Homo sapiens: one gene and its partners. The protein of the gene in region 3 purifies or fractionates together with the protein of the main gene of each other region. This does not show direct contact. Each region holds a gene or a part of one and is shown on either strand. Other genes may lie near its edges.

Region 1 (3,500 bases), on a different chromosome or scaffold from region 3:
CATATTTTGTCAGGCCACAGTTTTAAAGGTCTCGTTCCATTTAATCATGTATGAGAATCAGAGTCGTGGTATTTTATGTCTTGTCCTGTGGAACAGTATGTTATATTCCAAGAGCACTTAGAGTTTATTTTTTTAGACAGAGTCTCACTCTTTCTTCTAGTCTGGAGTGCAGTGGCATGGTCTTGGCTTACTGCAGCTTTCACCTCCCGGGTTCAGGTGATCCTCCTGCCTCAGCCTCCCAAGTAGCTGGGACTACAGGCACACGCCACCACGCCCAGCTAATTTTTTAAATTTTTTGTAGAGACGGGATTTTGCCCTGTTGGCCAGGCTGGGAGCACTTAGAATTTTATCATGATTATGTTTCAGGTATATTTATAAGTGTGGGCGGCAAACCACCCAGGTGCCAAGGCAAGAGACCGAGGACACGAGCTGTTCCAATATAATAAAATATAAAATAAGAATAGTTATACCAGATATAGATCTTAGATATGATTATATATGAATATCATTAATCATTAGTTTGTAGCAATTACTCTTTATTCCAATATCATAATAATCCTCACTCTATAATCATAACCTAGGAAAAACCAGGCCATACAGAGATAGGAGCTGAGGGGACATAGTGAGAAGTGACCAGAAGACAAGAGTGCGAGCCTTCTGTTATGCCCAGACAGGGCCACCAAAGGGCTCCTTGGTCTAGTGGTAACGCCAGCGTCTGGGAAGACGCCCGTTGCCAGGCGGACCGAGGTCTAGCAGTAGCGTAAGTGTCAAAGGAAAACACCCACTATTTAGCAGACCGGGAAAGGGAGTCTGCTTTTCCCCTGGGGAGTTTAGAGAAGACTGCTCCTCCACCTCTTGTGGAGGGCCTGACATCAGTCAGGCTTGCCTGCAATTATCCAGAGGCCTAACCGTCTCCCTATGGTGCTGTGCTTCAGTGGTCACGCTCCTAGTCTGCCTTCATGTTCCATCCTGTACACCTGGCTCTGCCTTCTAGATAGCAGTAGTAAATTAGTGAAAGTACTAAAAGTCTCTAATATGCAGAAACAATGGCGTAAGCTGTCTTTCTCTCTGTCTCCTCTCCCTCTCTGCCTCGGCTGCCAGGCGGGGAAGGGCCCCCTCTCCAGTGGACACGTAACCCACGTGACCTTACCTATCATTGGAGATGACTCACACTCTTTACCCTGCCCCTTGTGTTTTGTTTCCAATAAATAACAGTGCAGCCAGACATTCAGGGCCACTACTGGTCTCCGCGTCTTGGTGGTAGTGGTCCCCCGTGCCCAGCTGTCTTTTTTTTTTAAATCTCTGTGTCTCGTGTCTTTATTTCTGCACTCTCTCGTCGCTGCATACAGGGAGAAGCCCACCGACCCTGTGGGGCTGGTCGCTACATATAAGTACTCGTCCTTGTATGAATTAATGTTTTTACTTATTGATGCTCTGAGTCTGGGAAAATGGCAAGTGTTAAGACTCAGCTTTAAAAAGTTTTGTCACTTTTTAGTCTTTTATGCAAACCTCAGATCGAAGAAGACAGCATAAACACTTTTCACTCAGTAAGTTTTCCCAGTTAATGTATATTCACATCTTTAAAATGCAGCATTCCAAAATATGCCCGGTGCTATCCGCCCAGCTGCTCCTAGACCACCATTTAGTACTATGAGACCAGCTTCTTCACAGGTTCCACGAGTCATGTCAACACAGCGTGTTGGTGAGTCTTAATCCTTCCTTTAAAAATTGATCACCAATTTGAAAGAGCAAGATAAAAATACAAAATGTTCTTATTTTTTAGCTAACACATCAACACAGACAATGGGTCCACGTCCTGCAGCTGCAGCCGCTGCAGCTACTCCTGCTGTCCGCACCGTTCCACAGTATAAATATGCTGCAGGAGTTCGCAATCCTCAGCAACATCTTAATGCACAGCCACAAGTTACAATGCAACAGGTATGGATTTAATGATTTCTTAATAAAAATCACATTTCTTGGGTGAAATCAAAGGTGTGAAGACAGCTGGGCACAGTGGCTCACACCTATAACCCCAGCACTTTGGGAGGTTGAGGCAGGCAGATTGCTTGAGACCAGGAGTTTGGGACCAGCCTGGGCAACATACAGGACCCTGTCTCCACAAAGAAAACTAGCTGGGTGTGGTGGCATAAGCCTGTAGTCCTAGCTGCTAGGAAGGCTGAGGCAGGAGGATTGCTCGAGCCCAGGAGTTTAAGGCTGCAGCAAGCTGTAATCCCTGCTGGGTGACAGCAAGACTCTGTCTCAAAAGAAAAAATGTGAAGACAGCTGCATGATAGATTCTTGAGAGCTTAGCCTATCTGGAACATTCTGCTAATATGATAGTATGTAAAATGTCTTACGCTTTTGGAATTGGACAAGCAGCGAGAAATTCACATCCTAAATCACCACGCCTGGTCTGAAACAACTATTACAAGTAGCTATGGGCCAGGCGTGGTGGCTCACACCTCTATGTAATCCCAGCACTTCAGGAGGCCAAGGCAGGTGGATCACTTGAGGTCAGGAGTTTGAGACCAGCCTGGTCAACAGGGTGAAACCCCAGCTCTAAAAATATAAAGATTAGCCAGGCTTGGTGGCACATGCCTGTAATCCCAGCTACTGGGGAGGCTGAGGCAGGAAAGTTGCTTGAATCCGGAGGCGGAGGTTGCAGCGAGCCAAGATTGTGCCGTTGCATTCCAGCCTGGGCGACAAAGTGAGACTCCATCTCAAAAAGAAAAAAAATGTATCTGTGATACATAGTATATAATAACTACTTTGGCTTCTTTCTAATTCGCTCACTCAACTTCTCCACCTCATGTTTCGATGGAAGTCTACCACTTCAGCAGATGTCCATTGATGACTATTTGTATTTGCCATCTTTTTCTGTGCTTTAAACTTAAGAGTTCTCATTTTCTGTCTAGCCTGCTGTTCATGTACAAGGTCAGGAACCTTTGACTGCTTCCATGTTGGCATCTGCCCCTCCTCAAGAGCAAAAGCAAATGTTGGGTGAGTACTTCTGTCCCACCTTGTCAGTTCAGAAAGACTAGAAAATATAGGAATCACTTAGGCACTAGGTCAATCAATTGACAGCTAGGGCAGTGGAATTGATCTGAATTGGCATGAATGATTATGATAGTACAGTTGGTCTGCCTAATTAAAACCACTGGAAAGCCAATAAGAAAATGTATTGTTAGTAATAAATAGGGTAGTAGGGCATTACTCACCATGGGCCCTCACTACATTTTTGAGAGAAGGAATTTGAAGCAAATGAGAAGAAAACTTGTGACTTTGCCTGAACACCGATTTAACAACCTAATGGTAACATTGCTTAATTGGCAAGCTGATAATATCAAGAGTTAATTGCCTTGTGGCAGATTTTATTCTGTCTTCCCATGAAGACATAATGAAATTGTGGATTATGGGTTATTATATACGTGAGACAGAAGTATGGTTCTTAAACCCCAGTTTAATGTGGTAATTCAATGCAGTTAAAAACTTTTTTTTAT
Region 2 (3,500 bases), on a different chromosome or scaffold from region 3:
TAATGGGGCAAAAATCTAAAGGCCAAATGCAACTGGGTAAAAGTATGAACCTATTATGGCTTTGTGATTTTATCCACAGTAACTCCTCAAAGCTTTCAAGAGCTAAAGCTGGACCTTTTTATAAATATATCTGCAATTACTTTCCATTCAGGAAAATCTGGTAACTTCCTTGCCTCAAGCTGGAATCACTCCAAAACATATATTCTGAAGCAGTGTAAGGTCAAAAGAAAAAACAATTTTGCCGATCTATGACATGAAACTTTCAATAAAAAGAATCTCTTTCAGAAAAAAAAAATTCAAAATTAGTAGGACAATATTCTTTCACAACAAACATCTAGAGAGGCAACCATGACTTATGCATGGAATTTTTTTAATTTTTAGTTTTGTGGGTATTTAGTAGGTGCGTATAGGTACATGAGATATTTTGATAACAGGCAGACAATGCATAATAATTACATTAGTGTAAATGGGATATCCATCACCTCAAGCATTTATCCTTTCTTTGTATTATAAACAATTCAATTACATTCTTTTAGTTATTTTTAAATGTACAGTAAATTATTGTTGACCGCAGTCACCCTTTTGTGCTATCAAATACTAGATCTTATTCATTGTATCTAACTATATTTTTGGATTTAAAAAAAAATGTGGCTTTCTTACTTCCAACAATCCAGATTTAGCCCAAGAGTATTCCCAAATAATGCCAGTTTATAGTTAAAAACAAGGCAAAAGACTGAGACATCCGTTCAGACACGAGAATCAAACTGGTGTTGAAACAAAAGAACGTGGATCTCAACCTCAACCTTAACTCTTCCATCCCAATTTCCAGAAGAAGTAATCCAGATGACAAATGGCTCTACTAACAAAAACGGCACAGTCTGGTCACATTTTTACTAAATAATAAGACTACTTTTTCTGATTTGAGAAACTATAAGACTTTGTCCAATGTACCAGACTTCTTTAAATATATTAAAATTTTGGGGCCAGGCACAGTAGCTCACGCCTGTAATCCCAGCACTTTGTGAGGCTGCCGGGTGGATCACTTGAGGTCAGGAGTTCAAGACCAGCCTCGCCAACATGGTGAAATCCTGTCTCTGCTAAAAATACAAAATTTAGCTGGGCATGGTGGCACGTGCCTTTAATCCCAGCTACTTGGGAGGCTGAGGCAGGAGAATCGCTTGGACCTGGGAGGCGGAAGCTGCAGTAAGCCGAGATCACGCCACTGCACTCCAGCCTGGGCAACAGAGCAAAAGTCCATCTCAAATAAATAAATAAATAAATAGGAATTTGGGCCAGGCGCGGTGGCTCAGGCATGGTGGCATGTACCTGTAGTCTCAGCTACTTGGGAGGCTGAGGTGTGTGGATCGCTTGAGCTTAGGAGATCAAGGCTACAGGGAGCTATGATCTCACCACTGCACTCCAGCCTCAGCGACAGAGACCTTGTCTCAAGGGGAAAAAAATATATAAATATACATATATTTTTTAATAATATTCCTTCTGTACTCAAAATGAGTATCTTTTTCCTTATCACCATCACTAATAATACTTATCACCAACTTCAGGACAAGACATGCTGGCACCTGCTCATTATTATCAGGTCAATATGACATAATGTATTTGGCAAACAATAGTAAATATGGATCTAGGAGAAAAGACCTAAGCACCAAACAAATCAATGTAATTAAAGAAAAGAAAAAAGAGCCAGATAAACATAAAATAATGAAAAACTTCTGGTTCAAATCTGATCTCTAAAACGTGCTACTTGTACAGTTTAATGGAAATTAGACTCATTTGCTATCTTTCCAACCAGCTAATTACTATTTATAGTCTTGATCCTAATAGCTCTTTAGATTGTACCAGAAATTCACAGAATGATCTTGTTAAAAGAAGTGAGCTAGGACTCACAAATATCATTACAGAATATAGAAATTTCTCCTTTAATACTTGTTATAATTAAAAATTATACTGAAGCTTGCCTTATGCAATGTTTTTACAATGTGTTTCTAGCAAAAATTCAAAGAATGTTATAATCATTTAGTCCATTCATAATGTAAACTAAATGTGAAGTGGGCAAATGAAGAAAGGAATTCTTCACATAAAAGACCTGGAATAAATCTGAAGTTATTTATGAATGTATATATACAAACAGAAAAACCAGTAAACAGAAACGATTACTTGAGCCTCAAAGAAGGACTATAGCTCAAATCCATTACAATCTGTCTAGGATATTTACTATGCTATGCTATGTCCTTTAAAACTTGTTTAAGATTTTAAAACAAAACCTCCTTAGAATTTGTCACCCAATTTCTCTGAAAAGCCTCTTATACATACACATATTAAATTTTTTTTGGCCAGGCACGGTGGCTCACGCCTGTAATCCCAACACTTTGGGAGGACGAGGCGTGCGGATGGCTTGAGCTCAGGAGATCGAGACCAGTCTGGGGAACGTGGCGAAACTCCGTCTCTAATAAAAATACAAAAATTAGCCGGGCATGGTAGCACATGCCTGTAGTCCCAGCTGGGACTCACTGCAACATCTGCCTTCTGGGCTCAAGCAATCCTCCTGCCTCAGCCTCCCGAGTAGCTGGGACTACATGTTGGGATCACCGTGCCCAGCCCATTAAATTCTTTTTTTTTTTTTTTTTTTTTTGAGACAAAATCTCACTGTGGCCCAGGCTCCAGTGCAGTGGTTCAATTTGGGCTCACTCCAACCTTTGCCTCCCAGGTTCAAGTGATTCTCCTGCCTTAGCCTTCAGAGTAGCTGGGACTACAGGCACCCACTACCACGCCCAGCTAATTTTTGTATTTTAGTAGAGACAGGGTTTTTCCTTGTTAGCCAGGCTGGTCTGGAACTCCTGACATCAAGTTATCCATCCACCTCGGCCTCCCAAAGTGCTGGGATTACAGGCATGAGTAAATTCTTAACAGGCATTTTCACTACATTCTATTAAACAATAAATTAACCTAAGTCTTAAGTCATACCTTTATCAGTAGCTCACATATTTCATTATCTCCCCTAACAATTTCAATGTCAAGGAATATATTACTATCCTGTTCACTGTGAGCATTAAGTGTTCTTGTCTTAACTAGAAAATAATGCACCCACCCACAAAATTTCAGGGAAGAGAGGAGGGTCAAGTATCTTTAGAAGCCTATAAGATAGATTCTAAATTAAGAGTCCCTGCTGCTCTAAAGAGAAGGGATATCACTCTAGTAACCATATTGTAAACAATAGTAACAAAATATTCCCTAACCATATTGGCAGAGAAACATGGTGCCAAGCTGGTTCTTGCCTTAAGCCAAAAGAAACTCCAAGAAAAATGAAAATAGTGTAAATAAAAACAAATCAGAAGACATGATTGTTGCACAACACTGTCAGTGTACTAAATGCCACTGAACTGTATGCCTTAACCTGGTTAATTTTATGGTACGTGAATTTCACCTCAAAAAAAAATCACATATATATATGATTCAGTGTATCTCTCATATAATGAGTTCTC
Region 3 (3,500 bases):
TGGGCAATAAGAGCGAAACTCCGTCTCAAAAAAAACAAAAACAAAAACAAACAAAAACCCTAAATCATCTCACGTTTCATGATATATAAGAATGAATGAAGGGGTTGTATTAATAATTTTATACAAAATAAGGTCCCTTTCCCCTTGGAATAGTCTAGACAGAATATTCAAAAGCTCCTTTCATTTTATAGAAACACATAAAATACTGTATTAAGGTGTTACAGTAAATATGGAATTGCCATTAGTTCTATTAATCAATTCTAGTATTCTATCTTCAAAGACTAATGAGTATCAACTAAATCCCAGTAAGAATGTTTCATGTACACAACATTAATTCAACATTTTAAGTAATAATTTAAGAATGCAATGTATTCCTAAATGCATAATATAAAACTAATAGCTTTCCTTTCTAGGGTTCAAGTGGCCTCCTTGTAGCTATTTTAAGGCAAGAATACTGTTTGTCTCACTTTAGGGATTACTATGACAATACTTCAAACACCTTCATTTATGTGATTTTAGTTTCATTATCAGTATTCATATAAACATTTAATGCCTTCAATCAAGTAGCATCTACTGTACTTCAAACAAAAGTGCCAAACAACTTGAGGTTGACTGGGTCCTTACATAAAAAGCTGTTTGGCCAGTTGTGGTGACTTATGCCTGTAATCCCAGCACTTTGGGAGGCCGAGGTGGGTGGACTGCTTGAGCTCAGCTTCAGCTCAGAAGTTCAAGACCAGCCTGGGCAACATAGTAAAACCCCGTCTCTACCAAAAATACAAAAAACTAGCCAGGCGTGGTGGTGTGCACTTACCGTCCCAGCTACTGGGGATCACTTGAGCCTGGGAGGCGGAGGTTGCAATGAGCTGAGATTGCTCTACTGCACTCCAGCCTGGGCGACAGAGTGAGACCCTGTCTCAAAAAAAAAAAAAATTAAAAAAAATGCTGGGAATAAAGGCAAGAGGGAAGAAAACCCCAATTAAAACAATATGGAAAGTACAATGATATAAACAATAAAATGGCAAGTTTATAAGAAAAAAATTTAGTTCAATAAAATAAAAAGGAAGTATTCCACTTTGTTTTAGGTACTTTAACCAATATTAATAATGCAAAGATGACTAAGATTCAGTTCTACCTTCACTGACTTGTATTAACTTCAAGCACTGAAAGTATTTAGTGATACATGTTCATGTACACATAGTGACCTATTTTCTTTTCTTATACTGTTGGTTGGTGACAGTAGTCAGATCTTCTACAATATCCTTGCTGATTTTTGTCTACTTGTTCTACCACTTACTGAGATAGGCACGTTGAAGTCTCAAACAATAATGGCTTGAGACCTTGGATAAGTTGTTTGTAACTCCATAGACTTGTTTATCTGTTCGGTGGAATTAAGAATGGATTAAATGAGATGACACATGTAGTTTTTGCACAGTGCCTGACACAAGTTTGTTGTTATTAAAAGACAAGTGAACTGATTTTTATAGGGAGTTAAAAACATTTAAAGAAACTCCTAAAGATAAAACATATCATAAACTTTGCAAAATTGAGAAGATTTTGCAAAGTCAATCTAACTGGTAATATGAAATCTGGTTTACTTTTACCTCATTTTAGGGACTCTCTTTGGACAAAAATCAGAATATAAGAAATGTGACAGACCACCTAGTTAAATCTCATTTTAGACATGAGGAAAACCGAAGCCTAAAATTGTCCAGTTATAAACTAGTGACCCCTAAACCAATGTTCTCTCAAGCTGCCTTATTTTCCTAAATCCCAATAAGAATATTTCTAGTGTATTTTTAGGAGTGGAGAAGAATTCCCTGCATGTACAAGGTATTTTAAAAAACAGAAGTTAAATTAAATCTAAAACCCCTCTTTTTTCACTTATTTTAGACAAGACAATAAAAAATATTTAATGAAAAGTTTTATTATTTGGCCTTTCAGTAAACCTGAAAGAAAAAACCAGAAGAGGGTGTAAATTAGAGATGAAAGGCAGAAGTTTTCCTAACTGGGGAGCTTGAAATTATGTTCATGCTCTTTGGAGAATGTTAACAGAAACCTTAGAATTATCTGTCTGGGTACCATACAATGGAATTAGATTCATTTGTAAATGATTCTCTTCCAGACTTGCTTAGTTCTTTGCCAGGAAATACATTTCCAAAGCTCTGATTTTAAATAAATTTTAAGACATATTATAAATTTAAAAAATATAACTTACATAATTTATTGGTATAGCCTACGAAAAACTTACTAAAATGACATTTTTTGGCTTTAACTAGCATTTGTTCAGAGTATAAAAGAAATTTAGCAGTAAAAATTTACCTTATCTGATATATAATTTATCATCTCTGTACTTTCAATTGTACTGTCAATTTCTACTAATGCTATCTTCTCAGACTTGATCCTCACAACAAATGAGGGAGAGGGGAGAGAGAAACCTGGAAGAACAAGTAGATGAAGTAGGTTTTTTCCAGAAGAGAAAACAGGCTCAGAGAGGTTAAGTGATTTATCCAAGGTCACAGGCAGCAAGTGCAAAACACAAGGTTTCTAACTCCAAGTCCAATGTCCTTTCCTGCATTATACTAAATGGCACTGGTAGAAAGGCAGAAGAGAAGGCAAAGGGAAAGGGAGGCACAGAGAAGGGAAATAATAATAAAAAGGTCAGCCCCAAATGCAAATATATACTTTTACATTGGTAACCATTTTGGGAGATCTTTTCTAGTTGTTTGAAGCCATTCCCTCCCCACTTCCCCTTCAATCATGTTCAAGACCAAATTACTTATGCTTACCTTCAACTACATCTGCAGTTTTCATTAAAGGATTTTCTTTTATTATTTTAAGGCTTAGTCTTATTATTCCATGATAGACTTTACTTGTGACCAAACCAGGCTTCTCTGCATGCAATGAGGAATTGTAGTCCGTACTTACCGGACAAGGGCAACAAACACTTGAAGTGTCCTTACATCTCAAACACTGGCATGGAAGAGGTCCTATAGTTAGTGTAACTTAAAATTCTCAAAGTCAGTTATAGAATAAAGACTTGAACTACTCAAACAGTATTAGACTATGCATACATTCAATTTAGTATATCTGGGTTTGGTAATCCTAACATTAGAAAATTATTTTCAAGGCTTAAATATCAGATTTAATCTTTGTAAGTCTCTATATAGTAACTAATGGTAGCATGGGGAAAATGTTAAAAGTAAATCCACAAATTATGGCATATAAGCTACTTGGGAAGCATTAAGAATGCAGTTTAATAAAAAAGGTATCACTTAAGGATCACCTGAATATCAATGGAGATTTAAACATAACTATCCATGATCTACTTGGAGCTTCTTAAAAAGCTTTTTTTATTTTTAAGTGCAAATACACTCCTTTAGTATCTTATGAACATTATCTACTTTCTCATCTTGAGTTTGGTTACAAATTCTACATGGCAGGAATGACACTGTTTAGAATTCTATAACAATCCTATAAATTATAAAATAGTACTGTAGTAG
Region 4 (3,500 bases), on a different chromosome or scaffold from region 3:
CGGGAGGCTGAGGCAGGAGAATTGCTTGAACCCGGGAGGCAGAGGTTGCAGTGAGCCGAGATCGCGCCACTGCACTCCAGCCTGGACGATGGAGTGAGATTCAGTCTCAAAAAAAAAAAAAAAAAAAAAAATACAACTGCCTGGCGCTGACGCCCAGAAATGATTTCATTGGCATGGGGTGCAACCTGGGCATCAGAATTTGTTTAAAACCTCCCAGATGATTCTAATATGTAGCAAAATTTGGGGACCACTGATCTAAGACATTAGATAACTGAGCAGGAAAATATAAAACTTTAACTCCTGTCTGCGGCAATTTAGTTCTGTAAAGGAACAGAATGGTTATGGCATCCTTCTGACGCTGTATTCATCGGTTCTAACTAATCACGCAGGCTTTGTCTTCAGTATATTCAATCACATATTGTGGGTAAACCTGATCTTTCTGAAAGATGACAAAAACGGAGGGATTCGATCTGGTATCCACACAGCTGTCGAACTGTGGAGGAGGGCTCGTGTACGTTATATTTCCTTCAGTAAACTTTCCAACCAGAACTTGGGCTACAAACATAACGACGTTTTTGGCATCATACGGGCAATTTTTGTGGGAATAGATGGCATCTTTTGCAAAGTAAATTCCTAGAAAGAATCAGAAAGAAAAGTTAAGAAATATTATAAAAGAAGGTATACAGTTTATAAGATTTGTTATATACAGTCAGATGGGTGTGGACTAAGCATATGTCAATAATACCTTACTGATATTTATAAACTTTCCTTTGCACTTAAAAACATGTTAATGATGCAGGCGAACTTAAATACAGTATATAACCCTATAGAAATGACTGAGGAATATTTGCTACAGTGCAGAGCTCATGCTGATAGTGTGAGCCATTGGGTGCAATGACCAAATGACAATGTCACAGTGGCCCAATTCATGCAATTCACCCAGTGTGAGCTGAATGAGCAAACTTGGAACTGATGAGTCAGTTGATGCTTCGTCCTCAACTCTAAAACAACCTCAGATAACGATTGCTGCTTCCATACACAGCAGACCAACAATTTCCTGCCAAGTTAAAATTTTTATTTTTATCATTGTCAAGTGCTACTCTGGGCAGGTGCAGTGGCTCATGTCTGTAATCCCAGCATTATGGGAGGTTGAGGCGGGTGGATCACATGAGCCCAGGAATTTGAGACCAGCCTGGGCAACATGGGGAGACTCCATCTCTACAAAAAATTTAAAAATTAGCCGGGCATGGTGGCGTGCACTTGTAATCTCAGCTACTCAGGAAGCTGAGGCAGGATTGATTGAGCCCAGGAAGTTGAGGCTGCAGTAAGCTAGGATCATACCACTGCACTCCAGCCTGGGCAACAGAGTGAGATTCTGTATCAAAAAATACTAATAATATTTTCTAAGAAAGCTACTCTGTCGTTTTAAAGACCATGAGTAGATATTGCAACTCCTATTTCCATGCAAGAATCAATAAGTAAAATGAATTGTTTTACTTGTGGTAACAAATGTTTAATATACTTCCCATCTACTTTGTTTTTGTTCTTTTTATCATTTTATAGTTAGATGTTTGAATTCCAGAAACATTGCTTATCCTGAATAGGTCAGATACTAGATATTCTGTGCAAATGATGTTCTACTATATTTAAAGTAAAATATGGAAGTCTACCTATACTGACCTACGACGTCCAATCCCACTCCCCTTCCCAAAACAGTTTATGGCTGGCGGGAATTCTTTCACACCTGTTTCTATGCATTCACATACATATATGTGCATATGGTGGTTTATGGTGGTTTACTTGTTCATAAATAGGATCATAATATATGAACTGTTCTACAACTTTTTTTTCCACTTTAGTCCTAGAAATCTTGCTATGTCAGTACATCCAACTCTCTCTCTCTCCTTTTTTTTTTTTTTTTTTCGTTGTTGTTGTTGTTGCTGCTGTTTTTGAGACAGGGTCTCTGTCACCCAGGCTGGGGTGCAGTGGTGCAATCTTGGCTCACTGCAGCCTTGATATCCTGGGCTCAAGCAATCTTCCCACCTCAGCCTCCCATTCTAATCGGTGCGAGGCAACAGCTCATTGTGGTTTTAATTTGCGTTTGCTTGATGATTAGCGATGTTGAGCATTTTTTCATGAACTCATTGGCCATTTGTATTTCTTCTTTTGAGAAATGTCTATTCAAGTCTTTTGCCCATTTTTGAAACTTTTATTTGCATGTATTTTACGCTGAATTTATTCCCGTGCTGTAAGTTTTTGCTTCTTCAGTATCTTCTAGGATAGCTTTTTCTTCTGTGCACCTCCTCTTCTGGTTTAGGAACACGGTGTGCTTCTTCAGGAAGATTGTCTCTATGTGGCAGGGGGAGCTTAGGCATGAGTTAATCCAACCATGAGCTCTGGAAGTCTGGTGGCACATCTTGGGTGCTTTGTGCGCCTGAATATCCTCGACGACCAGAGAATCTACAGCTCAACCCTTACGTTCAGCATTACTCTCTGCATTTTTAAGTGTGTACAGCAAGAATTCAATTCTTTTGGGGTCACAAACTGCGTGCCCAGCCCCACTGTTTGGTCTGGGCACTCCTACCAACTCCACCCTCGTAACGTTGGAATGGTACACATTGTTTCCATACAGTGACATCTTTCAGACATTTGCTGGCTTTTCATATAGGCGTACTCTTGATGGCCTGGGCAGTTTCATGGGTGTCCTTAGAGTGAACATGAAGATTTGAACCTCTTTATTTGCATGATTTCATGGAGTTTTCTGGGTCAAGTGAATAGTGAACCATTTTCACAGATCACCGCAGGCCACTTATGGGAACAGCTTGCACATTTTAAAATTGAGTTATTTGTTCTCTTGCTGTTGAATTGTTTAAGTTCCTTACATATTTTGGATATTAATCCCATATCAGATGTATGGCTTGCAAATATTTTCTCCCACTCTGTGGGTTTGTCTGTTCACTTTGTTAATTGTTTCCTTTACTGTGGAGAAGCTTTTTAGTTTGATGCTATCTCATTTGTCCATTTTTGTTTTTGTTGCATCAGTTTTTTTATATCACACTTATATAATCTGGAATCTATATTTTCTTTTTTTAAAATTCCCTTTATTGTGTTAAGAAAGTTCATTTCTATTCCTACATTTCTGAGTGCTTTATTTTTTTCTTTTTTGAGACAGAGTTTTCCTCTGTCACTGAGGCTGGAGTGCAGTGGCAGGATCTCAGCTCACTGCAGCCTCCCCTTCTTGTGATCAATCAACTCTCATGCCTCAGCCTCTCGAGTAGCTAGGACTACAGGCATGTGCCACCACGCCCAGCTAACTTTGTATTTTTATTAGAGATGGGGGGGTTTCACCATGTTGGTCAGGCTGGTCTCAAACTCCTGACCTCAGGTGATTCACTCACCTCGGCCTCCCAAAGTGCTGGGATTACAGGAATGAGCCACAGTGCCTAGCCTAACATTTCATTTTTTAGGATAAATATTTGTTTGAATTCTAACATAGGATA

The links. The genes of interacting proteins can lie anywhere in the genome.
Region 1: the proteins of MEX3C (region 3) and PABPC1 purify together in Homo sapiens (affinity purification with mass spectrometry; 3 studies listed by BioGRID, with this or other methods). This does not show direct contact.
Region 2: the proteins of MEX3C (region 3) and AP2B1 purify together in Homo sapiens (affinity purification with mass spectrometry; 4 studies listed by BioGRID and IntAct, with this or other methods). This does not show direct contact.
Region 4: the proteins of MEX3C (region 3) and ZC3HAV1 purify together in Homo sapiens (affinity purification with mass spectrometry; 2 studies listed by BioGRID and IntAct, with this or other methods). This does not show direct contact.

The regions. Positions count from the first base shown.
Region 1 is NC_000008.11:100,705,089-100,708,588, reverse strand, and holds part of PABPC1 (polyadenylate-binding protein 1), read left to right. Parts: intron 1-1,591; coding exon 1,592-1,702; intron 1,703-1,783; coding exon 1,784-1,938; intron 1,939-2,915; coding exon 2,916-3,000; intron 3,001-3,500. UniProt on the Homo sapiens protein: Binds the poly(A) tail of mRNA, including that of its own transcript, and regulates processes of mRNA metabolism such as pre-mRNA splicing and mRNA stability.
Region 2 is NC_000017.11:35,590,322-35,593,821, reverse strand, and holds part of AP2B1 (AP-2 complex subunit beta), read right to left. Parts: intron 1-3,500. UniProt on the Homo sapiens protein: Component of the adaptor protein complex 2 (AP-2). Adaptor protein complexes function in protein transport via transport vesicles in different membrane traffic pathways.
Region 3 is NC_000018.10:51,187,682-51,191,181, forward strand, and holds part of MEX3C (RNA-binding E3 ubiquitin-protein ligase MEX3C), read right to left. Parts: intron 1-3,500. UniProt on the Homo sapiens protein: E3 ubiquitin ligase responsible for the post-transcriptional regulation of common HLA-A allotypes. Binds to the 3' UTR of HLA-A2 mRNA, and regulates its levels by promoting mRNA decay.
Region 4 is NC_000007.14:139,047,221-139,050,720, forward strand, and holds part of ZC3HAV1 (zinc finger CCCH-type antiviral protein 1), read right to left. Parts: intron 634-3,500; coding exon 374-633; 3' UTR 1-373.